Linked DNA regions of Homo sapiens: region 1 is linked to region 2. Evidence: fine-mapped QTL for protein levels in blood plasma. Region 2 holds a variant in brackets. A gene starts in the other region. All regions are shown on their forward strands.

The links. A credible set is the group of variants that fine-mapping cannot tell apart. PIP is the posterior inclusion probability: the model's chance that the variant is causal. The UK Biobank Pharma Proteomics Project read protein levels with antibody pairs (Olink). The fine-mapping took linkage between variants from a reference panel, not from the people measured, so its PIPs are less certain.
Region 1: SCG3 starts here. The variant in region 2 is the best candidate, but not a certain one, in a credible set for the plasma level of the SCG3 protein (UK Biobank, PIP 0.73).

The regions. Positions count from the first base shown.
Region 1 is chr15:51,673,623-51,690,325 of GRCh38, forward strand. It overlaps SCG3 (secretogranin III), which reads left to right and starts at 7,881. Exons shown (of 12, transcript NM_013243.4): 1 at 7,881-8,215; 2 at 8,895-8,947; 3 at 9,457-9,502; 4 at 9,597-9,812; 5 at 14,638-14,780; 6 at 15,597-15,746. The coding sequence starts at 8,134.
Region 2 is chr3:71,493,772-71,510,343 of GRCh38, forward strand. The region is part of intron 2 of FOXP1 (forkhead box P1); the gene reads right to left. Among named protein-coding and RNA genes, the nearest start is that of MIR1284, 40 kb to the right of the region's middle. RefSeq lists enhancers at 3,678-4,616, 9,845-11,044. The variant G/A (reference allele first, on the strand shown) is at 4,117.

The DNA of each region.
Region 1 (16,703 bases), not on the chromosome of region 2:
GAGACAGTAGGACTTCCTAAGAACATGACTTTTGAGCAGAAAGATAATGTATGTAGGGGACTGAGTCATGGAAATATCTAGGGGAAGAGCATTCCAGGAAGAGAAAACAGCAACAGCAAAGATCCTGAGGTAGAAGAAGCAGGCCTGTTGTGTGTGAGCAAAAGCAAGGAACCTAACATGGCTGGATTAAAGAAAGCAAGGGAGACAGCAATAAAAGATGAAATCAGGGTTAAAGCAGGGAACCAAAAAGTGTAGAGACATACACACCATTTAAGGACTTGGTTTTTTCTCAGAGCTGCTTCAACTTTCTAGGCAAGATTTCCAGATATTTTTAATCTTCCAGAACCATGAGTCAGGTAAGTGGATTAAACCCACATGGATCAAGGAAGCCCTCGTGCCACACATAAGAGGGGCTTCTAAGCCACCATTACCACTCACTTGAGAGCCCAGCTTTGGACAATGCTCTAGTGCTACCGGGCCAGAGTTTCATCAGTCTCTAGGTCATTGTTTTTCTTTGGGAAGACTTTAGAAGCTCCCTCCGAGGAATCTAACATGGAGCCAAGGCAAGGAACAAGAACTGTCACCTTGGTCCATTGGAGACTGCCTGCATCTGGACATTGATTCCTCAGTCCCTTGCTATCATTTTTTATCAACCAGGATCTGGTACAACTAGATAGAAGCTGCTTCCCACTGTCTATGGTTGGGTTGACCTCTAGGGAGAAATTCTCTTTGAGTTATCACATCCAGGCCCCAGATACTGATGTAGAGGAAATACTACTTCATGGAATCTGAAATTTAGAAACTTAGACTCTCTTAGAATCTATAGATAAGAACTTAAAAAGGGGCCAGTTGTGGTGGCTCACACCTGTAGTCCCAGCACTTTGGGAGGCTAAGGCAAGTGGATTGCTTGAGCCCAGGAATTTGAGACCAGCCCGAACAACATGGCAAAACTCCATCTCTACAAAAAAAAAATTAGCCAGGTTTGGTGGCGCACGCCTGTAGTCCCAGCTACTTAGGAGGCTGAGGCAGGAGGATCGCTTGAGCCCAGGAAGTTGAGACTCAAGTGAGCCAAGATCATGCCACTGTACTCCAGCCTGGGTGATGGAGCGAGACCCAGTCTCAAAAAAGCAAACAAACAAACAAACAAATACTTTTTATAACATTAAAAAAAAAAACCCAGAACTTAAAATGGGAATCCTTCTGCCCTGTGGAGACCTCTCACTGCGTTCATAAAGAAGAGAAATGGAGAGCTAAGGTCTGCCATGAGTGCTGGCGTGACGCTTAGACTGTACCCATTTCTACATATCCCAGCCAGTCCATTTCAGTTCCTTTAATGGATCTGGCACAACCAGTCAAAGCAGGAAACAACCTGCATAAAAAGCTACTGTAGGTGCCTAAGCACCAAGTCAAAAATTCTTCCAGACCAACCTTCTTCCTAGTACTCCGGTTCATCAATTCACTGAGTTTCGCTGCCCCTTTAAGCAGTGAGCTCTGGTTCTTGCTTTTGGATCTCTTGCTTTGGTGACCCAGTTTATGCCATTGATCACAACTCCAATCATGCCTTCCTTTAAGACATGATTCTTGGCACTTGTTCATCATCTTCACTCATTATAACCATGGAGCAGAAACAACTCATGCTCAAAGCCCACCACACCTAATGACAGAGGAATCCCAATTCCTGCCACCCTGTAATAGTCACAGTAGGCCCAGAGAGCAGTGATTTCGTGGAGCCCCTTACTTTGAGCAAAGTCTCTAACTCCTTTAGCCCTGCCACATTCCTATGCTACTAATCAGCATCTGTATGACCTCCAGGACAGGGGTGAGTCAGGGCAGGTGCCCTTCTCCACCTTGTCCTCTACCTGACCTCAGAGGTCCATGAAGGATGACTCTGGTGCACCTACTGCTCTGTCACCTCTGCACAACCCAGAGAAAGGTGCCTTCCAGCAGCCAGAGGCCAAGCTTCTGATGCTTACTCTCTCCTCCTTAGAAATCCAGATGATCTTGACCAACACTTCTAAGAGTTTGAAGCAGCTCACTCAGGGCCAGCCTGACCACCACACTAATGAAGGGGGTCAAGAATGGCCTTAACTTCATGCAAGCTGAACACACGTTGCATGGCTAGTACCTTGTGAAGATTCAAAAGGGAGCACATCCCCTCTGTATTTTAGCAGATTCCCCAAGGCTGAACCCTATAGAAAGAAACGCCACTTTGTACCTTTTATCTCCCTCCCTGCTAACCCCCATACCTGCATCACTGAACAGGGGGAAGAACTAGAATAGTTTCCTATTCCAAATTCCTAGTGCCACAAATCCCAGCTCCAGAGCCTCACAGGGCAGAGGGTGGGTGCTAACCTGAGGAGCATTTGGGAAGTCTTAGCCCACCTCAAGCATGCCCATGTCTACCTGGCGGCATTGTCCCTGGAAAATGAGGGAATGGGCAGGGCTAATGAGGAATTTGTGCGGTTTGGCCACTTGAAATATACTCCTGGAATACACGTGGAAAAAAGGTACCAAGTCTCATGTAAGAGAACTGCTATAGATAGATTCATAAGATGATAAGATTCCATTCAACAAACACTTATGACCTCTTTACTACATACGCTAGGCACTGAGGTAAATAGATGAGTACTGACAAGTCCCTCCCCTCTAGGAGGTTACAATGAAAAGGACATGTAAGTAATGACAGTACACTGTGAAAAACTGTTTAGAATGGCACTCAAGTAGTAGCAGAGTGTCAGAGAAGACAAAAAAACCCTCCCACCAAATTTTAATTTCCCTTCCACTGACCTTATCACAATGTGTTCTCACATCCCAAATGAAAACAGTTTATTACAATTGTCTGAAACATAATGGAATATGAAACATTGTAGTATATAAAATTATTTACATAGACTGTGTTGTTTTATTGTTCTTTTCTGATTATAAAACAGCATAGTACATACTCATGTTGAAAATATAAGGAGCTCAGAACTGCATAATGAACAAAGAAAAATCCTAACCAGGTAACCATTGTAAATATTATGGGAAATAGACTTCCAGATAAATTTCTAGGTATGAGCATGTGCACACACACACACACTTTTTTGTTGTTGTTGTTTTTTTGTTTTTGAGGCAGGGTCTCACTCTATCAACAAGGCTGGAGTGCAGTGTTGCAATCATGGCTCACTACAGACCCGGGGCTCAAGTGACCCTCTCACCTCAGCCTCCTGAGTAGCTGGGACTACTGGCATGCGCCACCATGCCCAGCTTATTTATTTATCTATTTATTTATTTATTTATTTTGTGGGGGTAGGAGAGATGGGGTCTCCCTATGTTGCCCAGGCCAGTCTCAAACTCCTGGACTCAAGAGATTCTCCTGCCTCAGCCTCCTTAAGCGTTGGGATTGCAGGCCTGAGCCCCTGCGCCCAGCCACACACACTTTCTATAATAGGAAACACATTGCTGATAGGCAACCTGATATTTTCACTCAATAATGCTAATTCATTTTAAATACTATATTTAATGGTGTCATGTGCATCTGTTGTTTTCTGTTTACTTTATAGCCTCACCCTGATTCCTTCTGGGAAGCCATTCTACCCTTGTGGTTCTGGAGTGAACACTCAAACATAGTTCTTGCATCTTCCTCCTATGCCCCCAGGGTAGGTGACTGACCCAATCTGGTTCAACTATGGTACAAGCAAGATAAGTGAACAAGACAAGTTTACTACTTTCTCCTCCTACCCACTCTCAGATTTATTTCTGGCACCTTTCAGTCTGTAGGTGGCCTATATGATCTTGTCATTTGGGCCCACTTTCCTTATTCATGTGCCCTTTTCTTTTCATTTCCATGCCTTCACTTTCCTTAAGTCTTGTTATTTGCTCATTTACATTATTCTTTGTTATTTCAACTTTCCTCTGATGGTGAATTTCTAGATTTCACATTTATTTCTCCTTTCGTCTATATCAGCAGCCACCTCTAGTGCTGGCATCCTGTGTCAGTCTCTTTCACAGCAACAGATCCATTCCTATAACTCTGTAACTGCAAGGGCCTTGCCAGCTCAGGCTCTCTATTCTTAGCCCTTTCATGAACATCTCTTCTGTGAGACTACGCCTTTGTAATGAAAGTGCTGAGTGGAGAATTGTCCTGACAGTGTCAAGATCCTCCAATGTGGGATAGCCATCATAGCCTCAGGATTTGAAGACCAAAGGTAAACAGGAAACCCCCCATCCCTTCATTTATTTAAGCAGATGGATTTCTAGACACTGTAAGAAGGGCTGAGAAATCAAAGATGAGTGAAACAAGATCCTTTCCTTGAAAAATTCACAGTCTAGTGTGGTAGAAAGCCAGATATGTAAGCATGTAATCACAGTGAGAGATATAATTTTATAAATATATGTGTAAAGTTTTCTTAGAAAAAATGTGCAACAACAGGACATACCCCTAAAGTTTGCATTGGTTATCACTATCAGATATTTCCCCTTTTTCCTTATCTGTATTTTCGGAAGTTTTTCCTTCAATATGTATTTATTATTTTGGAAATAAGGAGAAAGAAAGCATCTACACAAAGCAGCATATGGGATATATGCCCAACTGGGAGTGTGCATGGTATCCTGAGGAAGAAATGATCTCATCTAGGAAGTCAAAGAAAACCTTGCAACATCTGCCCTTCCATTCTTACTCATATGTGTCTCTCACATGTCAACCAAATGCAATCGTGGTTCAAGTAAACCAACTGTAAAAATATTTACAGTATGAGGCAAGAGGGGGAAATTTGAATCTGACTGGATATTTGATGATACTATGGCATTATTATAATGAGGAGGAGGTATGTTAAAAGCATTGCAGTAACATTAGAAAAAATAATCCTTATCTTTTACATAAATATACTGACATACTTTGACATACTTATGGATGAAATGGTATGAAGTCTGGGTTTTTGTTGTTGTTGTTGTTTGTTTGTTTGTTTGACAGAGTCTCTCTCTGTTCACAGGCTGGAGTGCAGTGGTGTGACCTTGGCTCACTGCAACCTCCACCTCCCGGGTTCAAGTGATTCTCCTGCCTCAGCTTCCCAAGTAGCTGGGACTACAGGCGCGTGCCACCACGCCCAGCTAATTTTTGCATTTGTAGTAGAGACGGGGTTTCACCATGTTGGTCAGGATGGTCTCAATCGCTTGACCTCATGATGAAGTCTGGGGTTTTTAATGGATAAACAACTCATTGGGGTATGAAGTGGACGGAAATATAGAATAAAAAGAATGGTCATGAGTTAATGATAATTGAGGTTGGGTAGTGGATTCATGCATGCTTATTTCAATATTTCCTCTACTTTTGTGCTTGAAATTTTCTATAAAAATACAATAATAATTAATATATTTTTTCTGTAATAAATGAAAGCATCCTACAAATGTCTCTACCTTCAAGACTCAGCTCAAAAATAATATTCTCCACTAGTGAATGAGCGCACCACAATTGTTCCATTTGTGTTGACAAATGAACAAGCAGCATTGACAAACTCACTGTGCATTGTACATTGTTGATTTAATAATTATCTGATCTGTGTCAATGTTATTTGTCTTGTAATTTCAACATATATTTTCATATTATTCCATGTTTATAGTGTTCTCACACATAAGAATCAAATATTTTAATCTTTTTATTATTAATAAAAGGGCTGTCTTCTCTTTGAAATCTTTCCTGACCATTCATTCCATTATTTGGACAGACTCTACTTGAGCTTTGCAAATACAAAAAGGACACATAACACTCTCTTGTACTTATTCATTCACTTATATTTCAATAAGAATAGTGTGTTGCATGTGAAACCTGTTCACCAAATAGTTGTTGTTATATTCACAATATTTTCTCTCTACTAGGCTATAGGACTAGCAGTGACTAGTGTCTTACTTGTCTTTGTACACCCAGCAACTATCTCAATACCTGGTACATTTCAGATGCTCAATAAACACCTGTTAAGTGAATTGATGAATAAATACAATTTAGGATTACTCCATTCACAGACCTATACTAAGTCCAGTGGTATCATCCATAAGGCTGAATAATGTAAACTAATTCATGCCTATGTTTTACTCAATGCTCCACCACTCATTTGATCAGAAACATAACATGATCCTAGATTTAGTGTCCATTTAACATAATCACTTTAAGTCCAAATGGCAGAAAGAGACAAAATACCCTTTTTCTTTTGGGCAAGCAATGCAATGTACTCAACAGACATCCCTGACCTTCATCCCATCCTGAATCTCTCCCAATTGCAAACATGTATTGAGGAGATAAATGAGTCAGGAATGGGACAAAGGACAAAGTGAAGCTGAGGGATTAGGTCAGTGAGTCTCAGGATCAGTGAATGGCTATTTCAGATAGCGTTGGGTAATGTTTCATAAAAGCTGAAAACGTTTCATGACTTATTTTCTTAGGCTGTATCAAAATATTCTTGGTATCAAAATGACTAGTTCAAAACATGTACCCATTTGATCTTCATAATAACAGTGTGAGGTAAACAGAGCCTGTCATTTCCATCATAAAGAAAAGGAAACTAAGGAAATATACCCTTCATTCAGCTGGGATTTTAAAATATGACTTAATTTTTTAATGCAGTATACTGGGATAATAATGCTATGTTATTACTGCCAATAAAGAGTTTTTTGTTTTGAAGGAGCTGTTAGATTTAGAATACTCTTTAGATCCTCAAAGGAAGTATTTGAGTGACTTCCAAACTCAAAAACCTCCGGAGCAAGGGAGATTTGTTTGTCAGCTTGGTTGTTTGTTTGTTTTTAGGTACTTGAATAACTTCCTCCTTGAAAAGGAGGGTGCAGAAATCAAAGGCCTGATTGTGCTGAATCCTTCTCTTTGGTCATTATTCAGACTGGTTCCCAGCATGCCGCAGTCCAGAGGAAAAGGTCCAAGTTCTGTTTAAAAATCAGAGACTAAAGAGCTTACTCAGCATCCTGCTCACATTAATGTTGCTTGTTTTCATCATTTAAAGTCTTTTGATAGTTCCTTGTATACAATAACCTTAGGCTTCTGGGAATATTCTCAGAACATAGGAAGCACCTCCCTGACTTAGTAAAGATGAAAAATGCTTTTCATGACTATCCCCTCTCTTGAAGGACCCCCTGGAACAGCCAGGTCTTTGGGCATAATTAAATTCTGGGCAAGATTTTACAGAAATGCAGCTTCTTTTTTCTAATTTAGTTGTGTGGTGTGTGTGTGTAAAGTGGGGGAGGTTCCACTTGGTGGGGAAAGGAGAATTTGCCATTGCTGCTCGTCTACTCAGGACTGTTTCTGTTGTTGTTGTGTTTCAGCATCAGAGAGTGAGAGTGTATTGCAGCAATCTGACTATTTGGAAGACTGTTCCTTGAATTTCCCAATTCAAAAGCCTCGGTAGAGCTGAGGGATGCTTGATACGTCAACACAGACCACAAAAGGCAGGGCTTTTCTAAAGAGATTATAATTATATCTACCTTTTGGGTACAGGAGGTGAATGGAAGGAAGGGATTCTGGAGCAGATATCCCAAAAGAAGAATCCCGAAGCAGAACTCCTCGCACAAGGTTATCTAAATCTCCTTGACAGGTGCACAGGCAGAGAAGGCATTTGGCCCTTGAAGTAACATTTACTTGAGAGGTTGGGACAATTCTGTCACGCTTAGGACAAGCCAGCTGACCCTGAGCCCAGGAGCACCCTAGGACTGCAGCACAGAAAATACACCAGCTGGCCGGTCGCCCCTCCTTTGTTCCATTCCCGGGGGATTGGAGTAGCGTTGGAGTCACCGACGCCATCCCCTCCCGCCTCTGGCGTGCATGGAGCATGCGCTTCCTTCCTCACTTCCTCTGCAGGAGGGAGCGAGAGTAAAGCTACGCCCTGGCGCGCAGTCTCCGCGTCACAGGAACTTCAGCACCCACAGGGCGGACAGCGCTCCCCTCTACCTGGAGACTTGACTCCCGCGCGCCCCAACCCTGCTTATCCCTTGACCGTCGAGTGTCAGAGATCCTGCAGCCGCCCAGTCCCGGCCCCTCTCCCGCCCCACACCCACCCTCCTGGCTCTTCCTGTTTTTACTCCTCCTTTTCATTCATAACAAAAGCTACAGCTCCAGGAGCCCAGCGCCGGGCTGTGACCCAAGCCGAGCGTGGAAGAATGGGGTTCCTCGGGACCGGCACTTGGATTCTGGTGTTAGTGCTCCCGATTCAAGCTTTCCCCAAACCTGGAGGAAGCCAAGGTATGTGAACACTTTTCTTCTTCCTACCTTCCTTTTATTTCGCCACGAAAAGGTAAAGTTTGGCATAATACGTGAGCTGTAAATCACCCTGACGCGTTTTCTGATCAAATCATATCCATGAATACGGACAGAGAAATCAGTTCGAATTTAGAGACAGAAGACAGATTTTTTTTCTTCACTTTTAAAATGATAGAGCAATAATATGGGTTGTTTTTAAAGATCTTATTTTGAAAAGGGAAGGGAACCTTTTTCACCTAAAGTGGCTTGGATTGTTTTCTAGTTGCCTTACAACCTTTCTCAGACAGTCTATTCATTATATATGCAGTATATGATGAAAGAGCTTTTAGTGTGCCAATAATACCAATCCAAATTATGCTCTCTCTAGCTGAGAATAGCTGATAACCCTAGTGTTAGAACTATATGTTAAATTTCTGGTCAGAAAAAAAAAAAAGTGTGATTCTGTCAGCTCAAGAAATACACCAAGATAATAAACAAGGCAATATTGATAATTACTATTATTGTATAATCTTGATAATCTTTGTTAATATGCATTTGTTTCATAGTCATCCAAAATTATTTCTCCTAATATTTTTCCTTTTTATAAAAATTTTATTTAATAAGAGGCATATTTTGTCCTTCAACGCACAATTAAATTTATATTCACATGTGTTTATTCTAGACAAATCTCTACATAATAGAGAATTAAGTGCAGAAAGACCTTTGAATGAACAGGTAGGTCAAAAGTAACATTATGAATGCTATTTCATTTTGATTTAGTTATTATTATTTAATGTAATTATGCTGTGACATTTTGGTCATTTTGAATTTACAAACATCAGGAACTTAATAGTTAATTGACAGAAATTAGGACGGGAAATCTAGTTTTGGTAAATTCTATGCCCTAGCAGTTATTTACATTGAGTTCTGTATAATGAATACATAGAGTAACTATATAATAACCCAGTAAGCTCAGCATCACATCCACTCTGTTGTAAGATTGCCTAATTTACCAGAGATTTCTCTTTCAACAATATTATAGGAGAAAGAAATTAACACTGACTGAGCATCTACCCTTAATTTTATCTCATTTAATTATTATAACAGTGCTCTGAAATAGGAATTATCCACATTTTACAAACAAGACAATTAAATCCCATGGAGATTAAATCATTTGGCTCTTGTACTTGGTAAGTAGTGGAGCAATGATTTTAAACCAAGTCTATCTCCTGTTTGCTTCACAGATTGCTGAAGCAGAAGAAGACAAGATTAAAAAAACATATCCTCCAGGTAAAAAGAAATCATATTGATGTTAATTTAAATAATGTAGGCTATGAGAATCTGAACTAAAATGGCTGTGTTGGGTTTGGGGCTATTCTTCCAGAAAACAAGCCAGGTCAGAGCAACTATTCTTTTGTTGATAACTTGAACCTGCTAAAGGCAATAACAGAAAAGGAAAAAATTGAGAAAGAAAGACAATCTATAAGAAGCTCCCCACTTGATAATAAGTTGAATGTGGAAGATGTTGATTCAACCAAGAATCGAAAACTGATCGATGATTATGACTCTACTAAGAGTGGATTGGATCATAAATTTCAAGGTAAATGAGAAAAAAAGAACTTTTTGTTAACGTGGAGTTTCCTATAATGGGTTAAGAGAAAGTCCAATATTTTAAAAATATCTTTTAAACATTCATAATCCTTTATTAGTCAAGTCCAAAATTGAGATAAAGCATATATTTACTGATAACATGTAGAGCCCCAGCTCCACAGAGTGCCATATTTTATTTTCCCTTTAAAAATTCCTTTAGTGATGCTCTGAAAACATTTTTTAATCTAGTATTTGTATTTTATGGTATTAAATTCATTTGAACATTCAGATTTATTTTAACAATGAGTACACACAAAATATCATAATTTTCAAATAATTAGATCAGTAAAGTACCCTCCCACCCTGCACAAAAAAGGTGAAATATCCACTATTTCCTTTTCAGTGTTTCCTCCTAGCCATATCTTTTCTCCTTAGGTCATCCTAACCTTTACGTGGCTTCAATTACATCTATATCCTAACATCCCATATCACTAGGCCAGACTTCTCTTAGCTATAGACCTATTTATCTGTTTACCTATTCGACATTTTCCCTTGGCAGTGTCAGAAGCACCTCAAATTTAGCATGCCCATGATTAAACTCATAATCTGTGTCCACTTCACAACCTAGACCTCTTAGAGTACTGTTTCTTTAGGAAAGGCACTACTATCCATCCAGTTTTTTAAAGACAGAAATCTAGGATCAAACTATTTATCTTTTCCCTCACCTCTCAAATTCTAATCTGCCAAAACTTACTAATTTTATGTCTGTGTATCTCTCAATTGTTTTTCTCTGTACTTGTCCAAACTCCAATCCTTGTCCAAGCTCCAATTATGTCTCATGTAAACTATAGCAAAATCTACAGTTCTCCCAGCAACCACTCCGCCTCTCCCCAACTCATTCTTCATTTGGCAGCCAATGTGGTAGTTTCCTTACCCGAAGTCAGGAGTTCAAGACCAACCTGGCCAACATGGTGAAACCCCATCTCTACTAAAAATACAAAAATTAGCCAGGAGTGGTGGTGGGCACCTGTAGTCACAGCTACTTGGGAGGCTGAGGCAGGAGAATCACTTGAACCCAGGAGACAAGGGCTGCAGTGAGCCAAGACCACGCCACTGCACTCCAGCCTGGGCGACAGAGCCAGACTCCATCTTAAACAAACAAACAAAACAGGAAAACCAAAGTCCTTAATGAAGCTTGCACAGTCCTGCATGGACTGCTTCCTGACTACATTTCTAGGTTCATCCTGCACACATAATCTGATAGAAACCTTGTTCTTGCCCTTCATGGCACTTCATGCAGTTTGTAATTTTACCTTCATAAGTGTGATTATTTATGATTAATGCCTTTCTCCAAAACTAAACTGAAAACTTCATAAGAATAGAGACATTGTAACCCCAGTGCCTGGAAGCCCATGAATTCATTGAATAAATTTATGAATGAATGAATGAATGAACAAATGAAATAATATATGAGGGAATAAATGAACTGCCATACCTAGGCATTAAGAAGGAAAGTGTGTTTTTCATTTTTGAGAACCAGTGCTTAGGAGTAAGTACAGGTTTTCTTCCCTGTCCTTATTCTGTTCCATAGCTACAGGAGATTTATGTTGATTATCTCTGCCAGAAAACAACTGACTATTAAATTGGACTTTCATAGGACATAATAACCTAGGAGTGTTCTGAAGTGTCACGTGTACCTATGAAGTGGGATGGAGGCAATGGGTTTATATTTTGACATATATCATATGCCATGCTACTCAGGGAAATTTACTTTTTAAAATCTTGAATTCGACTTTTTTACCTAAAATATTGGGACTACAAATAGACACTGATTATAACTGCATACAAAACAGATTCAACCACTTCAACTGAAGTGATCATTTGATTTAATAAAATAGCCTAATATTGAGTTGGCTGGATTGGTCAAACTTGTTGTACATGCAGGCAGAGACATAGATCTGTTTTTGATCTGACCGCTAATTTGAGCAACTAATTTTTTAACTGTTCAACATTTTATTACCATCCCAAGTATGTTTGGAACTACAAAGTGCTAGTCCTAATGACTTCAGGTTTACCGTAGGAGGTATTAACTCCACTTGAGATCACAGAGAAGACAGGCCAAGGTTCTTGGAGAAAATGATTTGTGAGTAAGCTTCTGGTCTCCCCTTGTGCTCTGGAAATCCTGAAACCAGAGGGTTTTTGGCCACTAAGTTGAATAGAACCTCAGATGCATGTAGACTTCATCCCAGAGGGGAAGGTAAAGGAAGCTAACTTCTGCCGGATGTGTTCCCAGACCTACTCTCGCCTTTAGGAAGCTTCCAAACAGGCTTGTACTATAGGACCCATCAATTCTCCTTTTCAGTGTTTTCTATAGTATGCACAATTTAGGATCTTTCCAAATTTCTCTTATAAAGTAGTGCTTTGGGGCTCCTGTATGCATTCGAATATTTATTGAGCAATTGCTATGTATTGGACTATGAGGTAGACAATAAACCCTGTGTAGTCAGGGAGCATGCCTAACCTTTACATCACTCTATTTCCAGTGTCTGACACATAATAAGACTTTAATTAAAATATATTGAACAAATGAATGTCAAGTGCTATGTTAGATGCTAGGGATTCAAAACATAACTGGGCAGATGATGACTTGGGACATGACCCTTTGACATTCACTTAGAATGTTGTGGCTACTTAACAAAAGTTATGTGTTAAACCCATGTTTGGCTCCCCTCTGGGAGTCTATACATGGAGGGTGAAATACCCCTTCATGAGCAGGAGGGAAGCCATTCTGAGTCATACTATCCATTTTAGAATAGTGAAGGAAATCAGGGAAAGGTGAGGAGCAATGGTCACACGTTCCACTGTTTACACCATCCAGCAAAGCACTGCTAGGGGAGACCTAAGTTCCTGGCTCAAGAGAGTACAGCAGTGCAGCAGAGCAAAGACTCTTCAGTGGGTTACTAACATCCTCCCTGTTGTGAAGTAAATGGACTGAAAAACAGTCATCTCAGTTATTTTCCAGGTCTAGGAGGCAACCAATATTCCTCCTTTTACGGATCCTGAGGGATAGATAAGTGGGAAGGGAAATAAATTCTTCCACCTCTGCATAGACTGGGGCAGTTTCTGCTCTATGTATTCCTGACAGCCTGACTTGCAATCCGCAAATGGAAAAATCAGACACATAATAGTGAGTCTCTGCTCCTGAAAAATAGATGACGATCCAAATTTTCAGCCAGCCAGGAGGAGAACTGATTTTATGTTTGTTTGTTTGTTTGTTTGTATGTTTGTTTGTTTGTTTTTCTTAGGGGCTTTTCTGCTTTTTTGTCTCTCTGGTACTCAGCTCAAAGGGCTCATGGCTCATGGGCTGGCCAACAGCTCAGCAATTTTGTACTGACAGAGAACTTCCAGTCCTCCATGTATAATTACCCCCACTCATTTTCCTAAGCTTCTTTCCAAACAAGAAAGAGATATTCTGCCTGAGGCTGCATATACCTCTATTTTCATAGAGTCTGAAAGAAAAGCCACGGGATAAATTCCCTGTCCAAATCCCCAAAACCCATGGAAGAAAAGAGCAGAATCAGAATAGAAATACTAGGCTCTTCTTTCTTTGAGTGAATATGATGAGGATTGTCTGGGCAGAATCTGGCCGGAGATTCAATTTCCATTTTCTCTAGGAGATAATTGCTGTTCCTTTGTTTCAAAATACAAATCCACTGTGCATAATAACAATAATACATTAGCTTTCATATATTAGGTTGGTGCAAAAGTAATCGCGGTTTTTGCCATTACTTTTAATGGCACAACAATCCCATGAAATAGATACCTTGTTAGACTCCTTTACAGTGATCCAAGGATATAGCTAACCAGAGATATCACTGGGGCTAAAATTCTGATCTTTCCAATCTTTCCAGAGGAAACAGGGAGAATTAAGTGCATTGTAAATTTGATCCATTCAATGTAGTATAGATTGGAGATGACTAATAATTGATTCCTGGAAGATCTCCATGGATGTGCTACAATGCTTCATTGCCACCAGCCCTTTCCCTCAGGATGGGCCCTTACTTTAGTCTGAAGTTGTATTGCCAAATGTATTCCTAGGAGAGCCAAGGGAGCATATGAGCATGCTTCTCTGCAAAGATTTACATATTGCTTTGTGCAGATCTGTTGCCATATTTTAAAAGTTTAAATTCCGGGCACATAAACTACAGTAAGATCCCTGTTCTCTAAGGATGAGTTTTGTCACCTTAAGCTGCCTTTTTTACATAAAGACACTCTAATACAAGTTCAATTAGAAGTAAATATTTATTTTAGGTGAGTCATAAAATCTTCAGTACACACTGTCTGATTCTGGGTGTGAGGTAGAAGTCCCTGCCCCTACCCCAGGAATTTGCCTGCAAAGGTAGTACATGTGGGGATATTACCAAACTATCTATTCCCTGTATGGAACTGGAATATCAAATCATACAATATATAGAAGGGTACATTGAATAATATGACATGCTATATAAATATGGCATACTATGTTAATAAAAAGTATAATATGGTTTGTATTATTGGTGATAACAATAAATGGAGACTACTTTTCTGTTGCCTTTAGCTTTTCCTTCCTCTTATAGTCACCTAAGAAAGTTTCAGAATGTCCATTATCATACTAAGTTTTTAACATGAAGACCAATTTTATTTCAAACCGAGGGTTTCTGTGGACCGAGAACCACCATAAATACATTTCAAACATATCTGAATATACAAAAGCGAAGTACAGATTATAAGTATAATATGATGCATGAAATAGATCTATGATCACTATGGTGTGAAGTTGTGGTCGTTCTGTCTAGATGATCCAGATGGTCTTCATCAACTAGACGGGACTCCTTTAACCGCTGAAGACATTGTCCATAAAATCGCTGCCAGGATTTATGAAGAAAATGACAGAGCCGTGTTTGACAAGATTGTTTCTAAACTACTTAATCTCGGCCTTGTAAGTCATTTGGTAGGAAATAAACCAAATTCCTAGTGCAGTTTAGAGTATGCCAAGAAGCCAAGTCACTTGCCTCAAGTAGCCAAGTGTTTATAATGTGTCTTCCTTCTACTAGGACCCGTAGGTTTTAAGGACAAGCAAAGCACCATTCTTTTTTTTCTAGGAGTTTATCATCCATCAGAAGAACTAGGCAAGTAGACACACGCCCAAAATGCCAGCTGCTTAAAAACCATAAGAGCCAGAGAATAGCTTATATCCAACTGGCAGTAAGGAAAGGCTTCAGAGGAAGAGGCGTATGAAGGAAGCTTAGAGGGATGGTTAGGATATAACCAGCAGAGGTAAAAGACATGTATGTGACAAAAAAAGAAATAACATGAGCAAAAGCATGTGATGTGTATTTTTGAAACTCCAGGTGATCTAATTTGAATCCACCTCAGCTTGGCTCTTCTGCCCTGACCTGGCCCTGACAGGCTTTATTAAGATGCTAATTTTGTAGGATGTCAAAGGTTATCTGACTATGACCCAAAGCTGTGGAGGGGCAATGCTCAGGGTGTTTCTCAAAATATGTGGTCCATGGGTTTCAACAGATAGAACTAACAGCTTGCATGGTGGGCCCGAAGATACTTCTTCCAGGAGTGCTGAGCAATCCCTATAACAGCCAGCATGTGGTGCAGGCGTAAGTGAGGGCTGTCTGAAAGATGGTTCAGAAGATTCCTCTTTAAAAAATACATGTTTGACTACAGTTTAGTCCACATTATTTTTTAATAACAAGACTGGGAATATAGCAGTTATATATGTTTTGCCTTTTTATGATAGATCACAGAAAGCCAAGCACATACACTGGAAGATGAAGTAGCAGAGGTTTTACAAAAATTAATCTCAAAGGAAGCCAACAATTATGAGGAGGATCCCAATAAGCCCACAAGCTGGACTGAGAATCAGGCTGGAAAAATACCAGAGAAAGTGGTATGTATGTGTATATATGCATATGCATGGGGGTGTGTGTGTGTGTGTGTGTGTGTGTGTGTGTACTTCTATCTGTATAATAATTGCCTTACTTGATACCAAAGAAGATTTGAGGTATGTGGCATTTTTAGCCCATTTATATTCAGGCCAGACATGTTGGCTCAAACCTGTAATCCCAGCACTTTGAGAGGCTGAGGTGGGAGTTGAGACCAGGAGTTCAAGACTAGACCTGGCAACATAATGAGACCCCCATCTCTACAAATAAAAATAATTAGCTGGGTGTGGTGGCACAAGCTTATAGTCTCAGCTACTCAGGAGGCTGAGAGGAAGATCGCCTGAGGCCAGGTGTTTGAGGTTGCAGTGAACTATGATTGCACCACTGCATACCGGTCTGGGTGACAGAGTGAGACCCTGTCTCAAAAAATTAATTAATTAATTAATTTAAAAATATGTATATACATAAAATACCAAAAAGTTAAAAGATATAAATGATCTCTACTCTGAAAATAATGTAAAGATTATGTTATATTCTATTATTTGGTAAAGATTACATCTTATACCCCACAGTAAAATAATACATAATAATATGTGAAGTAACAATATCACATAATAACATCTGTGTGTACAGTCCCAGTGAACTGCAAGCAAACATCTCACAGTTCTTTTGGTATCCAACATCTGTTCACAGCAGATGTCATCATCTGTGCCCAATCCCCCCACAAAGAAGTGGGTTGACTAGATCTTCTGCTACACCAGCTTTTGTGTTCCCCAGAGCTAGCTGCCTAATGCTGCCTCTCTGTTCTTGGCAATGCTCTTCCACCTGCTCCTTCCCCTTTTCATTGGTTTAGATGCCTATTTACCCAGGCTAATTTCATCCTTCCTTCCCTTTGTTGGACTCCTTGCGTCTTCATTTTTTCCTTAGCACCAACCAAGCTGTTGAGATCTTTCTCCCCACCT
Region 2 (16,572 bases):
TAAAGTTGTTATTTATTATGGGCTTTGTACCAAATATTTTAAATATTTTAGCATATGAAAATACCACTTCCCATTATCAAGTCTTCAGGTAACAATAAACTGTTTTAACTAAAATATTACACAGATAAATGTACCATTCCCTATTAAGTTATGATCTTTTTCGAAGAACAAAAAAAGTAAAAAATTTAAATAATTTTAAATTATTTTAGAAATACTAGTACTAATAACGAACATTAAAACTAGTAGGAAAGGTAATCATCATTTTTTTCTCCAAAATAATTCTATTTTATTCTAAAAATGATTATGGATTACATAAGGAGCAATACTCATGGAGATGTTTCCATCAAGAAAGCACATACGGTGCGATGGTCAGGGCTCAAAAGCTGAGAAGCCTGAGTTCTGGACCCGGTATGGTCTTCAGTCACTAGTGTGGCCCCAGGAGAGCCATTTATCATCTCGATTCCAGTCTCTTCACCTGTAGGGTCAGGGCATTAACCGATGCTCTTCAAGTTCCTTCTACCTCTAAGCTTCTGTCTTTTTGAAAGAAGCATATTTCTTCTAAATACTTTAAACTAATTAACTTCTCCTTTAAGCTTCCTGATTAAAAAGAGATTTTTGGTTTTTGTTTTGTTTTTACCATGATTCACTCTCATGCTGACCTGCCATCAACACTGAAGATGTGCTGTGACCAGAGAGTTTTTCAAGCGCTTAGAATGCTAAGCCTGGCACCAGTACCTAACCCTATTGAGCCAGCATCCCGGCGGCTGGCAGCATCCCCTGGGTGCCCAGGAAAGGCTTCCATTCCTCTCCAATGAGCATAGCTCCATGTCCTGCAGAAATCTGTCCAGATGTATTCTAGATTGATGCTTCTCAAACTTCTGTGCATAAGCATCTTTTGGAGAGCATTTCAAAATACAGATTCCTGGGACCCATCCCCGAAGACTCTGATTCACTAGATCTGGAGTGGGCCTGAGATTCTGCATTTCTAGAAAACTACCAGGAGATGCTGATACTACCAATCATGGACCACACTTCGAGTCAAATGGCAAAGTCCTATTCTCCAAGCCTCCAAGCAGCTTTGAGATCCAAGAAGTACTTCCAAGGCTCAGACATGCTCCCTAAAGCCATGAAGTCTATGTCACATAGAAAAAAAAAAAAAGAAAAGAAAAAAGAAAAAGAAAAGAAATGAAGAAATGGGCTGAAGTTGTTTACCATCTTTAGGATAAAATTTGAATTTCTTTCCATGGCCTGAGGGCCCTACATAATCTGGCCACTTTCTACTTCTCTGACGCTGCCTTAACTACCAACCCAATCCCAAACTATAATCAATGTAGATACAGTGGTCCTCCTTTTGTTTCAAGCAAGGCAAGTGTCTTCCCATCTCAGGGCTGGTGCACTTGCTATCTCAGCTTCCCAAGATGCCATGAGCCCATTCTTTACACAACTGGTCCCTTCTCAGTACTGGGACTTAGGGACAAAGGCCACTTCAAAAAGCTTGTCCTGCCCACCTACTTAAGTTAGGTTCCAAGTTAGTCTCAATTATATCATCCTATGTGCTTACTTCAGAGCTTTCGCCCTGATCTATTTGCTCATTTGTCTTCCCCACTAGAATATAAGCTCAATTAGATAAAAGAACTATTTCTTTTCATCGCAATGCTCCAAAATTTCAGAAAAATGCCCAGCTCATAGCAAGTACTCAATATGTATCTTTTGAGTGAATAAATGAATCAACAACTGAAAGAAGTAACTTTTCGGTACTCTCTAAAAATATAATTGCCATTTGTTGAAAACTCATTATGTACTGGGTATTGTTTTAAGTCTTTTATAATCATTATTTCATTCTATTCTTACAACAAAGTTCTTAGCAGATATTATTATTTTAAACTCAATATGTGGATAAGAAAACTGAGGCACAGGGAGTTTTAGCAGCCTGACTCAACTCTATAAAGCTTGTGCCCATGGGAACTCTATATTTTCCAGCCAATACCCTAATATAAAAGTCCTGAGTTTTTGTGATATACCCTTCTGACTCAGGCTTGCTCAAGTGAATTTTGGCACTACCTGACCATGCTGGTACTAACAATCATGGGCCACATTTTGTAACAGGCAGGTAATGCAAATGAGCGAGGAAGGCCAGGTGTAAGGTAACAGGGAGAGGGAAGGAATGTGGCAAGCTGAGAAATCCTCACTTTATCAGCTTCAAGGGGGAAGCCATTGTACTTCCCCCTCCAATTACTGCCACATGGGCACATACCCTCAAGAACCTCAAGAGCTTTCAATTCTACAAATAAAGGCAGTAATCTAGATTTCTATTTAGTAAAATTCCAGAATTTTTCAAAGATGGCAGCTAACTTTTTAAATAAGTTATATTTAAACAAAACAAACATGTTGCAATCCCTGTAGCAAAGGATGGATGAGGTCATGCACTGTCTCCAGTTTTATGATTCCAGAGTGATTCAGAAGCACAGAGAAGCAGTACGGGTGACACAGAAAAGCACAGTAGGTGTCTGGGCAGATAAGAGCTTTCTAGAAGAATTCATTATCTTGAGGTTTTGGGAGGAATTGGAAGATTGGGTGGAAAACGCATTTCACAGGTCAGAATATCATACTCGAAGGCTTGGGGGTGAGGAGTAGGCAAGTCAACAGCAAAGATCAGCCATGAGGAGAGGGCTGGTGGAGGTTTCCTGTGGGAGTTTCGTTTTCATTCGGACTGGAGTGAGTAGCAGCTTTCTAGCTAAGACATAAATCGGTTAAACAATACTCTATGTGGCCGGCCACAGTGGCTCACGCCTGTAATCCCAGCACTTTGGGAGGCCGAGGCGGGCGGATCACGAGGTCAGGAGATCAAGACCACACTGGCCAACATGGTGAAAATCCCTCTCTACTAAAAATACAAAAATTAGCTGGGTATGGTGACGCCAGCTACTAGGGAGGCTGAGGCAGAAGAATCGCTTGATCCAGGGAGTCGGAAGTTGCAGTGAGCTGAGATTGCGCCAATGCACTCCAGCCTGGCGACAGAGCAAGACTCTGTCTAAAAAAACAAAAGAAACAAACAACAACAACAAAAAGACAAAAAAAAACAATGCTCTATGTGTATGGTCATTAGTGCTGTCTTATTTGACTTCTAATATTTTAAAGTAACCAGGCATATCTAAAAATAAAGGGTGAATCACCACTGTGGTGTGTGGAAGTGTGTGTGTGTGTGTGTGTGTGTTGTTAAGAATTCAACAGTCACAGGACTGAATTCCATCTTCATGGAACCCCATAGCTAACTAAAATACTTAACTGTTCTGAACTCTAGACATAAAAAAATACAGCAACTGAAATTTTTAAAAATACCAGAAGATAGATACCCAAATAAATTATCCTTTCCACAGTACAGAGGCAAAAACAAAAAAGAAAAGAAAAAAATGACAGAAACCCCCACCCGCCTACGTAGAATTGTATAACTAGAAAAACTATCTCTTAAAGCTGAGGGTGAAATAGAAGCTTTTTCAAACAAACAGAAGTTTATCACCTCTCTATAAGGACATTCTAAAAGACTTACTTCAGACCAAAAAGAAACAATTTCCAGGAGAAAGTTTTTTGATTTAAGAAGGTAGGGAACAGCCAACTTGTGAAGTAGAGTAAGTGAAAAGTAAATGCACTAACAAACAATGTGCAAGTCTCAAACATTTTTTTAAAATGTAGCAGTACCCCCACTTGCTTTCTACCCCAGCTCACGGTATTTACACTGTAGCAATATCAATCACCAAGGCCATGGACTGCAAATGTGAGTGTGCAGGGAGGCACCAGCTTGAAGCCCAAGTTCCCACCCTCCATAGTCCAGAGATTCTTAAACAAGTTCCAGGAATCTGCTGTTCTACCCAACAGATACCCCAGGTAACTCTGATAAAGATCTGAAGAACACTGCATTGCTCTCTGACTACTTTAGGGGAAGGAATTATTCAGTGAACCCCCAGGGGCTCATCCCTGGGAGGCTCCAGCTGAGAACACTATCAAACCTTTGTTCTTTTCCACTTCACTACAGCCCCAGAAGTACCTTGGCCCAGGAGGTCAGCAGTAACCCTGCCTCAACCCTGCTAATCAAGAGCTGCAATAAATTAAAAGCCCATT[G/A]AAATATTTTAGAGAAAAGCCGAGAAGTGCTGAAACATTAATTGTGCCATATTCAATCTGTTTTCCTAGAGATTTGAAAAGCCAGATTACCATCTTGGGGGTCATTAGAAAGAATGAAGCTTTCTCCCTTTTCAATTTACATATTTAAAAATGCATGCGTTCTGGCAGTGGCTACTAAGTCCTTTCCAACGCTTTCCAAGTCCTGTGGCTACTCCAAATGCCACAGTCTAGCCATGGAGAGAGAAGCGTGGAATGCCACCGGGGCCTGCCTTGTTTCTGTAAAGCAAAGGAACCCAAATCCCAGGGCCTGTGGTTGCAAAACAGCTCCAGAAAAACAGGTAGAGGCAGAAACAAAACAACAAGTGATGTTTTCTTGTTTTGTTCTCCCCTGTTTATTTTTCCCTGAAGCAATCCCTGCTCAGTACAAAAGTCTGCAGGGAGCTAGAAAGAGCAGCTGTGGTTCCCTGAGGCCGGGACCTAGCAATCAAGTTGTTTACCAAACACTGCCAGGCACCAGGAAAACAACAACAGCACAGACAGCATTTGCATCTATTTTTCAACCTCCAAAAGTCTGCCCTGGAACTTGCCTGCACAGCTGAGAGAAGAGCTTAAAAATTAAAGGAATGAACTGCACTGGGTATTGGCCTCCATGGCCTAAATGTAATCAAGTATTCCATTTCTATTGAAGAATGTCTATCCTAAAAAAAGAGGATTGAGGAACTGCAGAATTTCAAGCAGTGGATTGATAACAGACAACATGCTCATCACGGGCATTTCTGAGCATGCCAACAAAGGCCCTCTCAGCAAACTGACATCATATGCTGAGCCTCCAGCAACTCACAGACATCTTGACCAAGCACCAGGATCTCCAGGGGGGTTTGTAAAACACAGATTGCTGGGCCTCTCCTGCAGTTTTGCATTCCATAGGTCCAAGACGGGGCCTGAGAATTTCTAGCAAGTTCCCAGGTGATACTGATGCTACTGATCCGGGCACCATCCTTTGAGAACCAGTGCTCTAAAGCTAGAGGCTCTATCCCCACCCTGAAGATCTAGGAAGGAGTTCATTTCCCACCTTGACCTCTCCCATGGGTTACCTGGTTGAGTTATGGCAGTTACCTTGCATAGCTGTTTCCAGAACAAAATGCATTGGATGGTTTCCATCTGCTTCTCCAGAGGCTCCACTCACTATCCCCCACCCAGCTCTGTGTCCTAGAGGGCCGCTCTCTGTCCAACCAATGGGAGCTCTCATCTCAGGACGCCACAGAAGATGGGGTATTCATTTCTCTAGTTCTGAGTCCCTCTTTGACCAGTGGCAACCCTGCCAGGCAGCTCTCTCCACACAACTCCTCTCTCTGGGTTCTTTCAGCCCTCCTCTGCCTCCCCTAGTCCACTTAAGGCCTAGGAGAACTAAAAGCCATCTATTTCCATCAGGGACCCTTATGCAAAAGTCAAATTCAATGTGTTGCCCACTGGATCTCCCTTGGTTTGAGAATGCTAAATGGCAATTTTATACACACACATAATATACGTATGTATATACACACACATATAAACACGCACAAGTATACATATGTGCATATAAACATACAGACATGCAGATATATACATCTTCATAATTGTTCGTTTTTAAATGCAACTAAATCAGATTGGCCAGAAAACTTGGGAGTCCCCTGGCCAAGGCCACCTCATGGAGTTTGCATGGATGTTTCCTCGGGTCCCACGTGCCACAGCAAGAGTGAGCCTGCTCTGTCTAATCTGTTACACAACCTGATAAGAAGTGCATTTGTGAGAGCTTCAATCCTTCTCTAATTTACAAACTTAGTTTCCTTTGTTGCAAATGGCACCAAAATAGAAAGGGAACAGAAGTGGGTGGAGCGGGCTCCATCACCAACTCCTGTGAATAACTTTTTGACAATGCTGAACCCAGTTCAAAAAAGCACATCAGCTGCAAAAAAAGGTATGTGTTTGTCAGCTCATAAATAAGATGCCAATCCACCTCAATTCATAGGCTAGGAAAAGAAGAACAAATAATACTTCTGTTTTTAAAATAATAATAATAATAACTCAAACGTGCCCTAAATAAGCATCTGTCTTTAGCGCTAAGTTCTAATAAAGTTCTGGTAAAAAACGGTCACCAGATTTAACCAAATGGGTCACTACACCAACCTCCATGGTTTGGGCAAGCCCATTTAACTAACTTTGTTTCAGTGAAGTTCCCTAAAACTAACCAATCACTATTCCTTTTATTAATCTTCCACTAGTAAGGTTTCTTTCAACTCACCAGAGGACTTATTGGTATCTATGCTCAAAAACAAATTTTTAAGTAAACCCACTAGACTAATTAGAACACATGGGGAATTACGTAATTACTTTTCTAGCTCTGAGGCTCAACCTGAAACCTTTTCGGTTTGTTTGTTTATTGCTCTCTTTTTCACTAACAATCTCCTGAATATTCCATGTGAAACTCGCAGGCTAGTGAGATTTTTCCTGTGGCATCTGTCTGCTCCATTCCCCCATCTATGTCCAAACCCTGCTCTAGAGAACAACTGACCTAACTGATCACTTCCCCTCTTTGGGGATGAGATAGACCATCATCCTGCTGGCTTCAGAACACTCCAGAATCTCCCTTCTGTGCTGAAGAAACTCCACTCCTCCTTCCCCTGGGCCTTAGTGCTCACCTCTCTCCACCATCTTCCACTACCATCATCTGGATGAATGGAGAGACTTGCCTTTTACCCTTAAAGATGTCCCCTCTCTCCTTTTCCAGAAGCCACTCATTCTACATCTTTCAACTTCAAGCAACTAAAAAAGAAAGAGTTGGTCTCTCTTCAATTCCTGTTACAGCCAAGTCGTTCCTCTGCCAACAGCCCACCTCACCTGTCACCTACCCTCAAGGAAAGTACCATCACCTTCCTCCACCGTGATTCCAAGATCCATGGAAACCTTTCTATTCATAGTCACATGTAAGGGAACCACCGCTTCCTGCCCAGCCAACTGGCAGTTACTTCTAAATGTCAAGGATGGCTAGGCACAGTGGCTCACATCGTTAATTTCAGCACTTTGGGAGGCTGAGATGGGCAGATTATCTGAGGTCAGGAATTCAAGACCAGCCTGGCCAACATGGTGAAACCCTGTCTCTACCAAAAATATAAAAATTAGCCAGGTGGGGTGGCGGGTGCCTGTAATCCCAGCTATTCGGGAGGCTGAGGTGGGAGAATTGCTTGAATCCGGGAGGCAGAGGTTGTAGTGAGCCCAGATCAAGTCTCTGCAGCCTGGGTGACAGAGTGAGACTCCGTCTCTAAATAAATAAATAAATGGCAAAAATGCTCTTCAACACCTTTCTCAGGTATTTTACTACAGAGTGAGCATCACTAATCAAAAAAATCCAAACTCTGAAATGCTTTTCTTTTTTTTTTTTTTTTTTTTGAGACGGAGTCTCGCTGTGTTGCCAGGCTGGAGTGCAGTGGTGCCATCTCGGCTCACCACCACCTCCGACTCCCTGGTTCAAGCGATTCTCCTGCCTCAGCGTCCCGAGTAGCTGGGATTACAGGCACGCACCACCACACCCACCTAATTTTTGTATTTTTAGTAGAAAGAGGGTTTCACCATGTTGGCCAGGATGGTCTCAATCTCCTGACCTCATGATCCACCCACCTTGGCCTCCAAATTGCTGGGATTATAGGCGTGAGCCACCGTGCCCAGCCCAAAAGGTGAAAACACTTTTGAACAACAACATGACCTTTCGAAGAAAATGTTCATTGCATGGGTACAAAAAAATAGAAAGAATGAATAAGACCTGGTAGTTGATAGTACAGCAAGGTGACTATAGTCAAAATAATTTAATGCCACTAACCACCTTGAATCCATTGCTCCTCCCAGTGCACACAATCCACCTTCACGTTTCTGAACTCGGTGTCTTTTACATCATCTAAGACTCATATTGTGGTACCCAGTGCCCTGAAAACCCTGGTATCCCTCAAGATGGCCTTGTCTTTTCTACTGACTTCCTGTTCAAGCTCTTTGGTTTCTTTCGCAGAGTGAGATCAGCAAGGCAGGGTCTGGGATTTGCAGGTTATATCCTGGATGGTGGCACGACAGCGCCTGGAACACAGAAGGTTGGGAGGCGTGACGCTCATCAGGAAGGCTCTTTTGGGGAGCCAGGAAGAGTCCCCCAGAAGCCCACTTGGCACCCTATCTATAACAAGTTGCTCTTTAAGAATCATGGGAACTCCAGAATCATTTTCACAAATACCTTCCACTCATGATTCAATTAAATGGCAGAAAACACAAACCTTCCGTTCCCACTGGCAAACTGGGTCTAGCTAACTGAGCACAGCTAGCACAAGGCAGGCCCCCTGCTAGCAGGGCAAGTGGCGGCCCGGTCCCCAAGGCCCAGGGGAGCCTCTGCAGCTCCCTGGAAGGACGGTCAAGTGAACAGAGAGCTGGCTGCCATCTGGGTTCTTTATAAGGCTTTTGTGGTAAACATGTTTACTTTCTTTTGATTGGCTAGGCTTATCAAGTATTTTGTTTTGAGTCTTGCTCTATAAACATGTTTACTTTGAGGGGAGAGCTTTTTTGATAGCTAGCACACTTGTTTTTCACACTTTTAAATTCAAAACATATTTTTCACAGCCTGTGGTAAACAACTCAAGGTGGTAAACAAATTATATTATTTTCATCTTCACACTAGAGAGGTGATCCCTATGTATCTATTCAAAGGCTTGAACTGGGTTGCCGGTAACCAAGGCTCTCTACTGGATGAGAACAAGAATTATATTCATAATGATGATGTTACTAAAAGGAAAACATTACAATGGCAAATCCTGCAGTATCAAACCTAAGCCTCAGTTTCCCCAGTGGGAACATTCTAGAAGAAGCCAGCCATAACAACAGCAGGGGTAGTCCTATTAATTGATGACATCCATATTTTCCATGAAAAATTAAGGTTATGTAACCGGCATACATAACAGCTAATACGGGAGGAAAAATCAAATAATGTTTCAAAGAATGAAGAAACCAACTAGGTCACAACACTAAGTGCAATTCTTTTGAGATCTGTTTTCTGTGATGATTTTTGCCTGCTTTACAATTAGAAAAAAAAAAAAAAACAAGTAGTAGCCTCTAATGTAAAACTGAAAAGCCTTCCATTATTGGAAAAGGAGTAAAATAACAAAAGAGTTAAGAGAAGAAAAAAAAGGAACATATCTCTTGAGAGAAAACCAATGGTCCCTGAAGTAGGATTTAAAAGTGCTGTTTACATAGAGGCATCAGAAGAGCCCCTCTGTGGAGGTAAGTGTGAAGTCCCATAGCAGTGGAGCCAAATCTGTTTTCTAGAGAGTTCTCTTGGTCTCCATGTTCCAACTAGAAACAAAAGCCATCTTACCAGAGGCCTTTGTAGTTAGTTACAAATTACTTAAAGGAATAAAAATACAGGCCAAATTACTTGCTAAAATAAATAAAGCCCCCAGCCCCCAAATCATCTTCTAAGCTTATGCTCAAGTTAAGTTAAAAAGCAAACAGAATTTCAACATGATGAAACCCCATCTCTACTAAAAATACAAAAATTAGCTGGATGTGGTGGCACACACCTGTAATCTCAGATACCCGGGAGGTTGAGACAGGAGAATCACTTGAACCCAGGAGGTGGAGGTTGCAGTGAGCCAAGATAGTGCCATTGCACTCCAGCCTGGGCAACAGAACGAGACTCTGTCTCGAAAAAAAAAAAAAAAAAAAACACCACGAATTAAGGTTGTAGCACCACACTATGGTAAACCTCCTCAGTGACTCGATGTTATTATTTCGTCAGGTATGGTACTGTAGGGAGGGGAGAATGGCAGAAGACACAGGAAGCCTGTATGGAGCCTCATCCATCATTCAGGCCAGATCATGTACAGAACATACAGGCATCAGAGTACAAACATACTAAGTAGCCTTGTTTTCCAAGGTTATAACATGCTCTGGGGACATGCTCATTAGGGGGTCAGGAGAAGGAGCCAAGGGCATTTGGAGGCAGCCACTATTCCTGACTTTCAGATTCTCTTCTATCAAGGAAGAAGACCAAAATAAATAATTTCCAGGTAGTTTTAGCAGAAGTGCAGCAAGACCCAGGGGGTGAGTACACATCACAAATTCCCAGGAAGATCAACGCCATCCCAGCTTTGCCAACAACTGTTTGAGATGTTTCGCAAGTCAGTGAGCTTCTCGGAACCTGAGTTTCCCTTCTTATAAAATGAAGGCATTTGAATCCCATCTTTTTGAACAATACTATGTCATAATTTTATGCCTCAAATCGAAAAAAACACTTTGGGGGATAACCGAGAATTCCAGGCTACATCATCCAATCAATACAATACTTGGAGCACTTTCAAAAAACCCACCAAGGAACCAAAGCTACCATAACTTAAAAGGAGCAGAAACGAAATTTCAGATTAATATGACGTTGGCCAGTGACTAGTCATCAAGCATACTTCAGCATTTAGTTGTCTGAGCAGACAGGTGACTCAGCGGGAAATGGGTTACCCAGCCAGCCACGCTCATCTGACCCACTGCCTCAAAGTAATTTTTCCTCAATTTTCAAAACCAAGAAAGTAAATGACTAATGAAATGACTGAAGAATAACTTCCAGACAATTCTTACATTAAAAAATAAAACCAAACTTCAGCACAACAGTAAGTAGATGAGAAGAAAACAACCCGGCTCAGAGCTGTCCAACGTCTGATGGCCACAGTTCCTTCTGACAAAGGAAACGTGCACATTCCAGGGTGTGTGGAATGATGTGGTTTGGAAATGTCTCGAGGCGCCAAGGGAAGAGCTGATGATCAGGACAATGTCATCAAGAAAAGTGTCACGGAGCCCAAGTGGTGACATTTCTGTTGCAAATATGAGAAAGGAAAGGAACACGCTGGTCCTTCACCCTGGTGTTCAATGCGGTCGTAGGACTTTTGGATATTCTCCTGGGTACTTCCAGTTCTAACACCAACTAACATGTGCAAAGCCTGTGCTGCACTGCACATGAGGTACTCTGTCCATAGCATTTTCATCCACCCTCTTATTAAGCCTTATAACGGTGGCAAGAGTAAATGCTATTATCTTACAGATGAACGAACCAAGGCTGGTGAAGGGAAGTCCTTTACCCAAGACCACAGTCAGTGACAGAGCCACATCTTTCTGAAACCCAAGCCTCGTCCCTTAACCACCAGTGAATACTACTGAGTACCATTTTTCCAACAGCTCAAACAGGAAAAGTAGGAACGTTTGGAATGGTTCCCAAAATAAAGACAACCTGGCAACATAGAGTTATAATTCTGTTCAGACCTCTACGTTGCCTCCCACTGTCTAAAACCCTTGGCTTCTTGCGTGAAGTCAGGCAAACCCGGGAAGCAGAAAAGCAAGGACCCAAGTCACCCCTGGTAGTGCAGCTTGGAAATGAGACAGGACATCTCCCCCAAGACAGGAGACAAGGAGGGAGTTTATGACGGCATATGAGGCATGCACTCAGTCCTCCTATTGGACTGTAGAAGAGGGATGCTTTTTTTTTTTTTTTTTTTTTTTGAGATGGAGTCTCACTCCGTCGCCCAGGCTGGAGTGCAGTGGTGCAATCTAGGCTCACTGCAATCTCCGCCTCCCCTCCCAGGTTCAAGCGATTCTCCTGCCTCAGCCTCCAGAGTAGCTGGGATTACAGGCGCTTGCCGCCACGCCCGGCTAAATTTTTGTATTTTTAGTAGAGACAGGGTTTCACCGTGTTAGCCAGGATAGTCTCGATCTCCTGACCTCATGATTTGCCTGCCTCGGCCTCCCAAAATGCTGGGATTACAGGCGTGAGCCACTGCGCCCAGCCCTGAAGAGGGATGCTTTCTATTCTTCTCTCGGTCTCCCTTCAATTCTCCCATTTTCTTCTGAATCACAACTGTGGGCATCGTCCCCCTTCCTCTCCTACTTCTTCCCCTCCACGAATGTCACCTGTCACTAAAGTCTAAAGGATGAGATTATCACTTCCGCCCGGAAGCCTCTCAAATGAAATTAAATCAAACATTTATTGCACTGTGGTACCACATGCACTGGGTGAGGTGGGGGATACCCAGGCACAGTCTGCCTCTCTGGGCAAGAAGTTAAATAACAATGTGCGATTTAAATAACATTTCAAGACAACAATAAGAGCCTTGTCACCGGGAGTACATGATTAATTGCCAGATGAATTCTACAGACAATAATTGCTGCAAAGTTCAAAAGGAGGGAGCAATCACTTCCAACAAATATATCCCAGGTTGCAAATTCTCCACTGAGCCTTAGTTCGCAGTTGGCTTCGGCAGTGTTGGGAGTTGGCTGCCTGGGGTCCGATCCTGGCTGTGATACTCGTGGTCCAACCCTATTTAAGTTTTCTGGGCCTCTGTTTCATCAGCTGCAAAACAGAGGTAATGATACTTCCTACATCATGGAGTGGTTTGAAGATTAAGTGGGATAATGCATGTAAACCTTGAAACAGGGCAAGTGGTAGTTTTACATCTCCTGTCTCCACGGCGGCGTATCTGCTATTCGAATCCGCACACGCTCCCTACACTGGCTCCCCCTCCTCACCTCCCTGTGTTTGCCAAATCCCCAGGTTTTCTTTTCCAACTAGCTGATAACTTTTCCAACTAAGGGGTTCCACGGTATCCTTCCCCCAGTACCAGGCAGCTACTACGTCTGCCCTTGACTTAGGCTCGCTGCTAGCTCTTGCATCCAGATTTCCACCTCCATTTCTAATATCCTAGGACAAGAGCAGGAAGCTGAACAACTGGGGGAAGCTGGTCCTTCCCCTCAGTACCAGCCAGCTACCACGTTTGCCCTTGACTTAGGCTCAGTGCTGGCTCTTGCATCCAGATTTCCACCTCCATTACTAATATCCTAAGACAAGAGCAGGAAGCTGAACATCAGGGCACCTGGGTTCAGCTCCCAACGTTGCCATAGAGTAGCCTTGTAATTCTGCACACTTTACAGTTTCTCTAAACCTCCATTTCTGCTTCTATAAAATGGGGCTAATGAAAGTCCCTACCTCCAAGCATTGCTGAGATTAAATTATCCAATTGGAGAGCACTGTGCTCAATGCCTAGTCAACCAGCAACGGCTCCACACCTGAGAGCTGCTGTTCTCATCTTTGCTTGGACCACACAACTAAGTGAACAACAGTGTCCCCGGCTGCTCTCTCCTCTCTCAAATGTGTGAGCTGCTGCCAGTCCTTCATGGTACCAGATTTGGGTCAGCGAACCACAGAACTTAATTATGCCCCAGTTTTCTTTCATGCCCATTGATCTAATTTTACATTAAAGTTTCACAAATAGAAACAGGTACTCTCATGCACAGCCAGGGCCAGGGTAAACTGACACCGCCTTTCCAGTTGGGTGGTGATATGCTTCAACAAGACTTAGAATCCCTTCCAAAGAGTAAGGAGTGAACAGGAATGCATGCTTTTAACAAAATAGTAATCACTGGGGAGAATTCAACTACAAGGTCACAAAGGAATACATCACAGCATTATCTAGTATATGAAAACAGAAAAATAAATGTCAGTTAAAAACTATTTCTGATTCATATGATAATGAAATATTATGCAACCATTAAAAAGTATTGTAAAAACAAACAAGGGCATAGAAGGAAACGTGAGCCCCAAATCATACCTGCTTACCAAATGTCTATTGAATGATATGTTGCAAAACTGCTTTTTTTTTTTTTGAGATGGAGTCTCGCTCTGTCACCGAGGCTGGAGTGCAGTGGCACAACCTCGGCTCACTGCAAGCTTTGCCTCCCGGGTTCACGCCATTCTCCTGCCTCAGCCTCCAGAGTAGCTGGGACTACAGGCACCTGCCACCATGCCCGGCTAATTTTTTCTATTTTTAGTAGAGATGGGGTTTCACCATGTTAGCCAGGATGGTCTCGATCTCCTGACCTCGTGATCCACCCACCTTGGCCTCCCAAAGTGCTGGGATTACAGGCATGAGCCACAATACCCAGCCCAAAACTGCTACTTTTTAAAGTTATTTGAGTACTTACTGTGTGCCAGCTGACAGGAATAAGCACATTACATATGCTAGGCTACTGCAAAATCCAATGAAGTGTTATTATCCCCATTTTACAGACAGCAAATGGAGACACAGGGAAATAAAATAACTTGTCCAAATACACACAACTAGTAAATGGATTTAAACCCAAGTCTTATTCCAAAGCTCTTGCTCTTTTCTAATGAGTGCTGCTGCCTATAAACTTATTAGTATATTTATGGCTGCATTAAGTATATTTCTATAGGGGGAAAAAGGACTAGAAAAGCTGACAAAAATACTAGAAGTAATTCTTTTTAGGGGGTGGCACTACAGATAATGTTTATTCTAGCTTTGATTTGGTTTTTAGATTCTTTACATTTATCATAAATCATGTTTGTAATAAAGGGAGGAAATTTGGGGGACAAAGTATTTTTCTGTTTTAAAAGCTCAAATGGCAGCCACCATCTTTCCCTCACTGTGACAGAAGCAGATGCTAGGCAGGCGCTGGGCTCGTGAGGGAAGGCAGTGCCTACCCAGTGGTTAGAGGTCCAGGTGCTGGAGTCAGACGGCCTGGGTGCAGAACTCCCAGAAGCTCTGGGGAAGCTGCTCAGGCCTCTGTGAGTTAGAAATAGGCAGGTATGTACAGGGCTTGGATCAGGGCTCACAGATCCTGAGGGCTCTGTAATATGAGTGATACTCATTGTTTTACGAGTGACATCTTCACTCTACTCAATACGTTTTATAGCCTCTTTCTGCAGATGGAACCAAAACATCGTTAAGGCAATGTGTCCCAATATCTTTTAACCAATTATCGTAATAGATCCTACAACCACCCCTCTCTGGCCCCCAACCTCCCAAGGGCTTAGGGCTGTCAAAGAAACAACTTAGGTCTGCAGAGTGATACCTGCCTTGGAATTCCAGCTCTGACCCTGGCTGGCTCTGAAATCTCGTGGATGTCACTTAACTTCCTTGCCTCAGTTTCCTTGCTTACAAGATGAAGAGGGCAACAGCTCATAGCTCACAGGATTGTGGTGAGGACAAAAGGGGAAAATGTATGTGAGACACTGAGCTCTGCATTCAGCCCACTGGGACTTCTCAATAAACCTGACCCATCATGACTACTTTGGCATTTTCTGATACAGCTCCACTCTCCGTATGGATTTCGCCAGTCATTATGGGTTTCTTCCTTGTAATGGTTTTCTTGCCATCATTTTTTCATATTTAAGCATTGTATTATAATAGAGAATAGAGATGAAGCATGCCCTTGTGCAGATTCTGATACTGTATGCTCCCTTATTAGTCAGCCAGGGCTGCTGTAACCCAGTACAAGAGACTGGGTGGCTTGAACCACAGGCATTCATTAATATTTGCTCATGACTCTAGAAGCTGAAAGTCGAAGATCAAGGTATCCACAGGGTGGGTTTCTCCTGAGGCCCCTCTTTTTGGCCATCTTCCCTCTGTGTCATCACACGGTCTTCCCGTGTGGGTTTTTGTTAGAATCTCCTCTTCCTATTAGGATACCAGTCACACTGGATTTGGGCCCATCCTAATGATCTCATTTTTAATTTAATTATCTCTTTAAAGTCCCTATCTCCAAATACAGTCACATTCCGAGTGAGGTACTGGGGGTGAGGGCTTCAGTGTATACATCATGGGGGGAGGACATAATTCAACCCACAACAGCTCCTCACCTCCTGAAAGGACAAGCTAGGCCCCAAATTAAGAATCAGTTATGCTCTAGGAGGCTCAGATGGGAGAATTGCTTGAGGCTAGGAGTTCAAGACCAGCCTGGGCAACATAAAGAAGCCTCTGTCTCTACAAAAAATTAAAAATTAGCCGGGCTCAGTGACATGCACCTGATTCTTAGCTACTCAGGAGGTTGAGGCAAGAAGATCACTTGAGCACAGGAGTTTCAGATTGCAATGAGCTATGATTAGGCCACTGCACTCCAGGATGGCCAAGAGAGCAAGACTCTGTCTCTAAAAAGAAGGAATCAGGCCAGGCACGGTGGCTCACGCCTGTAATCCCAGCACTTTGGGAGGCCAAGGCGAGCAGATCACCTGAGGTCAGGAGTTGGAGACCAGCCTGGCCAACATGGTGAAACCCCATCTCTACTAAAAATACAAAAATTAGCCAGGCGTGTGGTGGCAGGCACCTGTAATCCCAGCTACCAGGGAGGCTGAGGCAGGAGAATCGCTTGAACCCCGGAGGCGGAGGTTGTAGTGAGCCGAGATTGCGCCATTGCACTCCAGCCCGGACAACACAGCAAGACTCTGTCTCAAAAAATAAATAAATAAGAAGAGTCAGGCCATGTGCGGTAGCTCATTCCTGTAATCCCAGCACTTTGGGAGTCCAAGGCGGGTGTATCACTTGAGGACCAGCCTGGCCCACACAGTGAAACCCCGTCTCAACTAAAAATACAAAAAATTAGCCAGGTGTGGTG